Homo sapiens: one gene and its partners. The protein of the gene in region 1 interacts with the protein of each later gene in a pairwise test. Each region holds a gene or a part of one and is shown in the gene's direction. Other genes may lie near its edges.

Region 1 (3,652 bases):
AAAAAGGAAATACTCCCTTCCTGGGATCTCCCACTTCCCAGTTTGCCAAGGAAAACTGAGCCCCAGGAGGACACTGAGGCAAAGTCTCAATACTTTCTCCCCCTCCTCTCTGAAAAGAGAATAAAATGAAGGCTTGGCACACACACCATCTCCGAGACAGTGCTAGCTCCTGCCTCCTAGGAACTGATTCCAAGGTGAACTGCTGGTGGTGGAAGAAGCCCTTCAATATAGCATGTATTGATTGCACTTGATGTACAAAAGAGGACATAGATGCTGAGGGACATAAAGATGAACAGAGACCTTGTCTCCAGAGTTCACAATCCAACGGAGGAGGGAGACTTGACATCAGTATTCTAGTAGGAAGGCAACCTGTGAACCAGGCACATTTAGTTTCAACCTCAGCTCTGCCATTTACTCTTAAAATTTCCAAACCTCTGTGTCTTCACCTGAAAAACAGGCTTAATAATATTTGCGTATATAGGTGATTGTGAAGACTAGAAATGGGGTATAAAAAGCGCTTTGACTGGGTGTAGTGGCTCATGCCTGAAATCCCAGCACTTTGGAAGGTCCAGATGTGAGGATCACTTGAGGCCAGCAGTTCAAGGCCAGCCTGGGCAACATATGCAGACCTCTGTCTCTACCGAAAAAAAAAAAAAAAGTTTTGGCCGGGCATGGTGCCTCAGGCCTGTAATCCCAGCACTTTGGGAGGCCGAGGTGGGCGGATCGCCTGAGGACAGGAGTTCGAGGCCAGCCTGGCCAACATGGTGAAACCCTGTCTCTACTAAAAATACAAAAATTAGCTGAATGTGATGGTGGGTGCCTGTAATCCCAGCTACTTAGGATGCTGAGGCAGGGGAATCACTTGAACCCAGGAGGTGGAGGTTGTAGTGAGCTGAGATCATGCCACTGCACTCCAACCTGGGTGACAGAGTAAGACTCCGTCTCAAAATAAAATAAAATAAAATAAAATAAAATAAAATAAAATAAAATAAAATAAAATAAATAAAATAATAAAATAAAATAAAATAAAATAAAAAACAGTTTTAATTAAATAAACCACCTCCTACAGTGACCGGCATATGGTAAGTGTGCAATAGTAACTAGTGACTTTTTAATCATTTACACTGCTTGTGACAAATGCTATAATAGAATTACCCCAAGGAGATTTTATTTTCACCAGATTTCAGATTTCAACCCCTTTATTCTAATATCATGGATTTGTTCAACAAACCCACATTTCCCCTGCACACCATTATGACCACTATCCCTTCTAAGCCTTGCCCTCTCCATGTCATGGACCATTTTTCATGACCCTTCTTTGAGCCCTCTCCTCTCCCAGAGCAGACACGCTTAGGTGATAGGCACACTGCAGCCAGGACACTGAGTCTTTGATGGAAACCATGATAAATTGGCAGCTTCTGCCCTGGGGTGGCAGACTAAGTCCCTGCAAACCCTGCAAACTGTCTAGCATTGTGGGAAGCACTTGGGCTTTGGAATCTGATGGAGATGGATTTGAACTCCAAGCTCTTGTTCAGTGTGGGTCTTTTGGCAAGTTACTGAATCCCTTGAGCCTCAGTCTCCCTGTCTGTAGAAAGAGGACACCAATACCTAATGAAGTGGCTAAGAGTATAACTGCATGGGTTTGAATTCCAGTTCTGCCAGCTGTGACCTTGGGTGAGAAATATCTCAGGGCTGCAGGAGTTTTCATTTGTAAAATGGGTATATGAGTAGTTGTTATGGTGGTTAAGCAAATGATATGTAAAGTACTTTAGCTCAGTGCTTGGCACATAGTATATAAGTTTTAGTTATTACTGAACTGAACAGTGTGTGTAGAGAACTCAGCCAGGATGGGGTGAGGACAAGCAGAGAGGTGGGGAGCAGTCCTCTGGCCCAGTTTTGGTTGGGGTGCAGAAAGACACACTGCCACTCTACTCTATCCCAGGTGCTGTCCCACAACCTGTACACGGTCCTGCACATCCCCCATGACCCCGTGGCCCTGGAGGAACACTTCCGAGATGATGATGACGGCCCTGTGTCCAGCCAGGGATACATGCCCTACCTCAACAAGTACATCCTGGACAAGGTGGGGCCCAGCTTGTAGGGAGCATCTGTAACCTCTCCCCACTTTTCCAGCCTGGCCAGCAGCCTAATACCTTGCCACTCCAACTCTTCGCCCCTGCCATAAACTCCTACTTCTGCCTGCTCTGTCCGTGACTGCTGTCCCATCACGTCCCTCACATCCCAGCCACCTGCCCCCTTCCTGTCCCCCTCAATTCACCTTCAATGTCCCTCATCTCTAATGAGGTGGGCCCCACCCTACCCATAACCTTCCACCGAATCCCTGCCCGGCCCTCCTCCAGCTTCCAGGGTTCTCCACCCTTCCCAGACTGTCCCCCTGAACTCCCCCTCCAACTCCTCCAATCTGTCACTGTGTTTCCAGGTTCTTGGCTCTTAGCTTCCTGCTGGGTTTCTCCTTCTTTGTCCTCTGGGCTGAAAGACTAGAGTTAATCTGTTGTCAGGGGGCCTGGGTGGGTGTGGGTGTGTTGTGGAGGGTGGAGTGGTTGGAACCAGCTAGTTACCTGGTAATCAGCTCAGGGATCCCTTGAGTTAGGGCCCTGGACTTGGCCAGGTGGGGAGCAGGGGCATAGATGAACCCAAGAAACCCAGCTGGAGCCTAGTGTCGTGGTAGAGCTGAGATATGCAGTCAGCTGATTTGCAGCCCTGGTGGCAGGTGGAGGAGGGGGCTTTTGTTAAAGAGCACTTTGATGAGCTGTGCTGGACGCTGACGGCCAAGAAGAACTATCGGGCAGATAGCAACGGGAACAGTATGCTCTCCAATCAGGATGCCTTCCGCCTCTGGTGCCTCTTCAACTTCCTGTCTGAGGACAAGTACCCTCTGATCATGGTTCCTGATGAGGTGAGGGTGATGGCAGCCCCAGGGACTGAATCACTTGGGACCAGACCTAAGCAAAACCATGAATGAGACCAAACCACCTTTGGTGCCTTCCCATATCCCCTTTCTTTCTTTACCATCTTCCCATGCTGGTATCTGTCCTCACCCAGCTGTCTCCAGATGCCTAGAACTGCCTGTGTCAGAGTAATTTTGCCTTCTTCCAGGAAAACTGAAATTACACTTTCATGAGGGTTCTGCTGGTCCTCACTGTAGGAAAATGATCTGCAAATTCTGTTTACACAGAGGTCTAAATGCCAGATACATTACTGAGCATTACTGGCAATCTAGGAAGGGTGCTTTTTTTTCCTTTACCTTTTGCCACTTCTTCCAGGACAGGAAGGATGCTTTACAAGGCAAGGGGAGACCTTTCTGAGACAGGAGGTTACTCTGGTTCCAGATTTTCCCTTTCTGCCTTTCTTCTGGAAAGCCAGGACAAACTCAGCTAAGAGACCCAGGGATAGGGCATCCTGGGAGAAAAGGCTGGGAATCTGGTCCCTATCTCCTTACTCCTGGGTGAAGCCAGGGAAGGCATTTTCCCATCCACCTGTACCCTCCCTCTTATCCTCACTTCCCTCCCCTGCCCATTTGGCCTTGTGACCCTTTAGTCCTCTTGGTGGCTGTGGAGATGCCAGGGTGACTTTAGGTCTTTAGAGTGGGGTTTACAGGAGAGGGGGCTTCTGTACTTACAAGAAGCCCTAG
Region 2 (3,652 bases), on another chromosome or scaffold:
GTGGATGGTGAAAAAAAGAGAAACCCTGGGACTGGAAATAAAAAGAGAGTTAAAAGAGAAAGTCTGCAGTAGTAAAGAAGTATACAATGAAATTTGAAGTGAAACAAAACACAAGGAAAATAGAGCCTTAAAGTGTTTGTTAGGAATGCCTAGAAAGCTATCATAGACAGGACAATATTTGCAAGTGGGGAAGGGTGTTGCAAGTGTTGTAGATATGTAGATTAGATTAAAGAAACAAAATCTATAGCTTTTTATGTATCAATCATCCACCATCTTGGACTATGGTGGGACTGAGGAGATGAGGGTCTACAAATACTAATCTTAAAACCAGAAAGACAGGACATTGAACATTTGGATGGATAAACCAACATTGAAAAAAGTCTCAGCAGATGTATTGTTAGAGTAAAACAAGCTCACCACTATCTCAGGGATCTTACCATTTTTTTCTGAGGGGATGGCAACTAGGAACAAATTACATAGTTCCCACTATTTGGGACTTAAGATAGGTAAAATGTCCTTTCTTTTTTTTTTTTAAGTGTGCTGACCATTGTTTAAGTTTTTTTGTTTTTGTTTTTGTTTTTTGAGATGGAGTCTCACTCTGTCACCCAGGCTGGAGTGCAACGGTGTGATCTTGACTCACTGCAACCTCCCCCTCCTGGTTTCAAGTAATTCTCGTGTCTCAGCCTCCCGAGTAGCTGGGATTACAGGCACACACCACCATGCCTGCCTAATTTTTGTATTTTTATAGAGACAGGGTTTCACCATGTTGGCCAGGCTGGTCTTGGACTCCTGACCTCAGCTGATCCGCTCGCCTTGGCCTCCCAAAGTGCTGGGAATACAGGTGTGAGCCACCACACCCGGCCCATTGTTTAATTTTAATGAAAATATTTTTCCCGTAAGATTTTAAATTTGCCAACTGTGAACTTCAGATCCACTTATAAGTCCTAGTTCTCAGGGTTGGTAAAGGAGTATTATGAAGGGACAGGGACCATACACATTCATGTAGTATAGCGACTCATTGCTGGCATTCATCATGATGGGACAGGCATTGACAAGCTATGGCCTGTGGGCCAGATCTGACAGCTTGCCCGTATGTCTCGTGGGCTAAGAATGGTTTTCACATTCCTGAATGGTTGGAAATAAATCAAAAGAAGATCAGTATTTTGTGACCCATGAAATTTAGATGAAATTCAAATTTCAGTGTCTATAAACAAAGTTTTATTGGAACATAGCCATGCTCATTTGGTTACATATTGTCTACAGCTGCTTTCCCGCTGCAGTGGCAGAGTTGAGTAGCTGCAATGGAGACTGTGGGCCCACAGAGCCTGAAATATTTACTATGTGGACCTTTACAGAAAAAGTTTGCCATCTTTTGTTATAGATGAAAGAACCTATCTAAGTGATTGACAGTGAAACCACTGGAGATGAAAGAAATCGTTTTCATTTGGAAAGGAGTTCACAGTGTTTGGTTTCTTGTTCTTTAATTAGAAGTATAGGTTGGAGAAAGGTTCTCAGTTGATTGGCTTATTTGAGGAACACTGGCCGTCACAGCCAAAGCAGATGATGAAGTTAACATGGTTATTCAAAAGGTTGTGATCTTTCAAAGGCAGCAGATGAATTTTTTTTAAGTATTCGTGTTTCAGTTTAAAAATACTCCATGGACAGTTTCCATCTGACTTGCCCCCAAATAGATGTTATTTTAGCTATTTTGATTAGGTTGAATTCGAGTGAAAGAAATCAAGAAACAAATTTGTTAAGAACCAAAATGCTTTGTAGCACACATGGTGAGAGAAGATAACTCAGATATCAAAGAAGCATCAGACATGGGTCCACCCTTGAGAAATGCAGAGGATCAAAGAAGCACACAGAGCAGAAAGGGGTCCCTGGAGGAGGCTAGTATCTACTAGCCATGTCCCAAGGGATGACATTACCCCGGTACATCCTCCAGGGCTCAGGCTGGTCTTGCAATCTCAGAATACTGACTTGTTAGCACATCAAAAATTAATGTATCTTTCAGCAACAGATACACAGGTACCAGACTCTCAGAGACTCTAAAAGCCAGAAAGACAGTTTATTAATTTGACAATAAGATCTGTCACATCAGAGAAGTGGACACTCACGTCCTTTGGCTAATGTATTCTTCCTCTAAGTAAGCCATATGGGAAATCCAATTATTCTCAGAAGTCCGTTTTCTGCATTTACAATGAGAAGCCAAGCTGCCAGGAGGTCAGGATGCTTACATCTTCTGGCCTGTACAGGAGTACATCCTCTTCCTAGAGCAACAGAGCCTGGGAATTGGATGATAATGAGAAGGCAGTTCTGGGAATCGTCCAGGACAGCGTGGCTGCCACCTTTTCCAGTCAGATCACCATTACCTGTGCTCTCACAGCACACTTTGGTCCCACTCTGTAATAACATAGCACAAGTCCGATTCCATTGTAATGGCCTGCTTACTTCTCTTTTCACATCACTTGACTTTAGTCCCTATATTTTATTCATCATTTTATCTTCAGCTTCAGTGCAGTGCCCTGACTAGAGAAGGTGCTAATGGGCCCAGGGCAAGATGGCCACAGGCATCCTTCTCCTCAGGGATGGTGGCCTCTGTAACCCAAAAAGGCCCTTGCACTGGGCCCTTTGCTGGGGAAGGGCGTGGGTGACACCATCCACATCTGCCTCTGTTGCTTCTTCTATGTTTTTTGGCTAATGTGAATACTTTTTTAAAAATGACACTGCATAGCTCTAATCTAATCTATTCTTCCTCCTTAAATCCTCACCCACCTTTGAAAAAAAAACTAACATCTTTTTATTGTGGAAAAAATCAAAATATACAAAAAGAAGAAATAGCAGTATGATTCTTAATTCTTTTTGTTTGTGTGTGTGTTTTTAGACAGGGTCACTCTGTCACCCAGGCTGGAAGGCAGTGGTTTGATCACAACTCACTGCATCCTTGACCTCCTGGGTTCAAACGATCCTCCTGCCTCAGCTTCCTGAGTAGCTGGGACCACAGATGTGTATCTCCATGCCTGGCTAATTTTAAAAATTTTTTGTAGAGATGGAGTCTCCCTATGTTGCCCAGGCTGGTCTCAAACTGCTGGGCTGAAGTGATCTTCCCACCTTGGCCTCCCAAAGTGCTGGGACTATAGGCTTAAGCCACTGTGCCCAGCCAGTATGATCTGTGCCACCCCTTCCCTGGCTCCAACATCATCAACTTACAGCCAACCTTGTTTTGTTTATACCTTCACGCGCTCCCCACTCCCCCCAGGATTATTTTCAAGCAAATCCCATGTATTTCATCTGTAAATATTTTAGTATATGTCTCTAAAAGGTAGTGACTTTTTATAAAGAAAACAATACCACACACATTAAACAACTTGACGTTAGTTCTCTAATATAATCAATTATTCAGTCAGTGTTCAAATGTCCCCATTTACCTCATAACTTTCTTTTTTGCAGTTTGTTTGTATCAAGAGCCAAATAAGTTGCATTTAGTTGATATGTCTATAGGTCTGGGTTCTCTCTTTCTCTCTTTTTCTTCCTTGTAATACATTTCTTGAAGAAACTGGGTTGTTGTTGTTTTTTTCAGTCTGAATTTTCATTGTACCTCCATGCAGTTTTTTAAAACATGTTCCTTTGTCCCCTGTATTTCCTGTAA
Region 3 (3,652 bases), on another chromosome or scaffold:
CAGGCCTCACACACCTGTCCTCTTCCCCCCCACAGCACAACAGACGTGCACACGGTGGCCTCCCTGCTGAAGCTGTACCTGCGGGAGCTCCCCGAGCCCGTGGTCCCCTTCGCCAGGTACGAGGACTTCCTCAGCTGCGCCCAGCTGCTCACCAAGGACGAGGGGGAGGTCAGTGGCTCCTGGGGATAGCTCCTGGGAGATGGGCTGGCTGGGTGGCAGCCTGTAGACTCAGGACACAGACTCTGACTTTTCATGAATTTTCATGGCACATGGATCCTGTGGAGGCCTGCTGTGTTGGGGGTGTGGTGGGGGCCTGGAGCATCCTGCTTGGGTGGGGGAGGGGCCAGGGCATCCTGCTCAGGTCGGGGAGGGCTGGGGAATCCTGCTGTCTGGAGCCATACCTGTCTGCGGCCTTGGTCCCTGGGAGGGGTGGGTCCGGTGTGCCCAGCTCTGGCTGTCACACCAGTAGGTGCTCACACTCCCCACACCCGACTCAGGCCACTCAGGCCCGTCACAGGCTCAGAAACCAGGACATCTTTTATTTATATCTTGCTTCCTTCCCAAAAGAATTTGAGCTGGCTCCCAGGACAGATGAGCCAGCCCTCCCGTCCCCACCCGTGCAGGTGCTGGTCTGCAGCCCCAGGTGGCTCAGGGCCAGGGAAGGACTGTTTGCCTTCCCTGCGGCCATGTGGGAGATGAGGGCTCACTATCTGGCAAATATTTGTGTCTTGATAAGTGAGCTGAGTGCTGGCCCTGACATTCCTCCACGGGCCCTGTAGAGGCTCACCCCTCACACCAGCTCCTTGGAAGCAAGTTAGCTTCCCAGGAGGTCACAGCTGGGCCCTGGCCACTCCTTGAGGGGAGGTGGAGGTGGTGGAGCCCTCTGGTCTGTTGGGGCTGGGCTGCCGTAGCCCCCACCTCCCTTCTCTTTGCCCACCCCTCCTCGCAGTCAGAGAACAGTCAGGGCCCTCATTGCCGGTGTTTGAAATTCTGTTCTTCATTCCTAAGGGCACTCTGGAGTTGGCTAAACAAGTGAGCAACCTTCCTCAGGCAAATTACAACCTGCTCAGATACATCTGCAAGTAAGCGGCTTGGCAGGAGGGAACCACACTTTCCTGCACTGGCTCCACGCTCCCCCAACCCCACAGCGAGACACGCAACTCTTCCTTGTCAGAGGGGGGCCCGGGTCATTCCCCACCCTGCACAGCCTCAACCCAGCGTGGACGAAGCAGGGAGTGGAAAAGCACAGACCCTGAGTTCACGAAGCTTACAGTCCCATGGGAGCAGCTGGTTTTAAACAGACCTGGGTAGATAATTCCAGAAGGGACATACCCTCTGTCCCTCCTGGGTGCCTCTTGCCATCCTGTCCCCCCGGCATCTGCCCCTTGACCCCAACCCTTCATGTATCCCCATCCTAGACACTGAGAAGGGGAATGCAGGGGCGGCGCTGACTGGGGTCTGGGACTTCCCAGAATTTGTGCCCACTACAATTTGCAGAGTCTTGTCCTCCTTTCACACAAATAGCGGTGGGCCCTTGTCCCAGTGACTTTTACTTCTGATGGCCCTCTTGGGCCCCAGGGGAAGCCTTCCCTCATCGAGCCTGGCAGAGGCAGGCTACACCCAGTGGGCAAAAGCCCACAGGCAGCAGGGCTCAGCAGGGGTGTGGCGGTGCGTCCAGGCCGCACACAGGAGACTGGGCATCACAACTTGCTTCTTTGATGACTGCTGCTTCCTTACTTTGCAGGTTTCTGGATGAAGTTCAGGCATACTCAAATGTCAACAAGATGAGTGTCCAGAATCTGGCAACCGTTTTTGGACCTAACATTCTGCGGCCACAGGTAGAGGACCCAGTAACCATCATGGAAGGTAAGTGGGAGGTGTACCTGGTGGCCCTGGGTGCTGCCGGGGTCTGGGCTCATCTTGGTCCACGGCAAGTCCTTGGAACCATCCCAGCCCAGGGCCAGGCCAGCAGGAGGGGTGGCTCAGGTGGCACATCTCCATCTCTGGGGACTTGGCAGGAACTTCTGCAGACCTCACCCCCGACCCCCATGAGGTTCAGCTATAAGATAAAAAAGGAACTTTGCCCTGCGATGGGCAGCAGCAGGTCACTGGGTGCAATTAGAATAGCCAGGGGTTTCTGTGGATGGAAGAGGCTGGAGGGATGGGAGAGGTCAGCACTTTTGCCCTTGAACACAGACATGTTTGCTTTTCTTTTACAATTAAGCAATTGTCATAGGTTCCTGGATGTCAGCTTTGCAAACCCTGGAGAATTTCTCTATGATAAATAACAATAAGTGATTAAAAATAGCAGCAACAGCAGCCGCTTTCAGTAAGCTTCTACCAAGTGCTTTGTTTGTATCATCTCATTTCAGGCTTTACAACCAGCCTGTGCTGTGGTAATCGCCCCCACTTTACAGATGAGGAAACTGAGGCCAAGAGAGGCGAGGGGACTCACCAGAGGCCAGTCAGCCAGACTTAGCAAAGGGCACAGGTGTAGGCTGCCATAGAAAAGACAGCCCACCTCATAGGGCCCATGGAACACTGTCCCCAGTGGAGTATGCATGAGAGACGTGCTGCTCAGACAGGAAGCCCACAGCTGAGGCTGTTCTTGCCCTTATCCCATGTTGAGGGACGTGGCGGAGTGCTTTTGCTCAAGTCCGCACTTTGGTCAGCCCTGGCTGGGTCTCCCACCCCAGGGCCCCTTGAGGCCAGGAAAACACAAGCTCCTACCTGCCTGGTGGTACAGATGCTTGAGGGAGGAGGCCTGCCCTGCCTGCTTCATGGAGTTCCTGCTTCACCTAGGTTCTTGGCCTCAGAATTCCTTCCTTGACTTCTTCCAGGATTCCTAGTCAACTTCAGTGGGAGAGTCCACCCTGGCACTCAGCCCTCCCTCCTACCGGGGGACCTCCTAGCGTCGGGCCTTTGTGGTGAGGGTGGCAGGAGGGAATGAGGCAGCTGGATAGATGCCCTGGTCCTTCCTGCACTGCCCACCTCCGCTGCAGGCCCCCACCCCACCACCGTAGGAACTGAGTCCCCAGGACTGGGGGCTGCATCTCAGGGGCCTTGGCCTAGACACGGGGGATTGTGTGTGTGCGAGATTATATGTATGTGGGATTCTGGGGGGTGAGCAGGGTGCACTATGTGTGCAGTTGTGTATGGGGGAATTTGGGGAGGCTGCGGAGGGTGCATTGTGTGTGCAATTGTGTGTGGCGGATTTTGGGCAGTGGGTGGGGTTCATTGTGCGATTCTGTATGGGGGGATTTGGGGAGGCTGGGTAGGGGATTTGTGTGTTCACTTGTGTGTGTGTAGGGGCTTTGGGGAAACTGGGTAGAGTGCATTGTGTGTGTAATTTTATGTGTGTGGGATTTTCGGGAGTGGGCATTGTATGTGCGATTGTGTGTTGGGGGATTTGGGGAGGCTGGGTGGGTGCATTGTCCAGTTGTGTGTGTGTGTGGGACTTTGGGGGTGGATGGGGTGCATTGTACGTGTGATTGTGGGGGGTATTTTAGGGGGTGGGCGGGGTGCATTGTGTGTGCAATTGTATGTGTGTGCCCCCACACAGGAAAGATGGCTCTATTCCCTGTCCCAGAGCCCTATGCTCCCAGAGTGTGGACATTCAGGCATGGCAGTTGTCAGCAGCACAGAGGGGTGA

The links.
Region 2: the proteins of DEF6 (region 1) and RAPGEF4 interact in a two-hybrid assay, tested with the Homo sapiens proteins (one large-scale study listed by BioGRID and IntAct).
Region 3: the proteins of DEF6 (region 1) and ARHGAP22 interact in a two-hybrid assay, tested with the Homo sapiens proteins (one large-scale study listed by BioGRID and IntAct).

Annotation. Positions count from the first base shown.
Region 1 is NC_000006.12:35,307,728-35,311,379, forward strand, and holds part of DEF6 (differentially expressed in FDCP 6 homolog), read left to right. Parts: intron 1-1,942; coding exon 1,943-2,083; intron 2,084-2,731; coding exon 2,732-2,917; intron 2,918-3,652.
Region 2 is NC_000002.12:172,738,808-172,742,459, forward strand, and holds part of RAPGEF4 (rap guanine nucleotide exchange factor 4), read left to right. Parts: intron 1-3,652.
Region 3 is NC_000010.11:48,451,518-48,455,169, reverse strand, and holds part of ARHGAP22 (rho GTPase-activating protein 22), read left to right. Parts: intron 1-35; coding exon 36-168; intron 169-1,008; coding exon 1,009-1,082; intron 1,083-1,744; coding exon 1,745-1,866; intron 1,867-3,562; coding exon of another isoform or gene 3,563-3,652.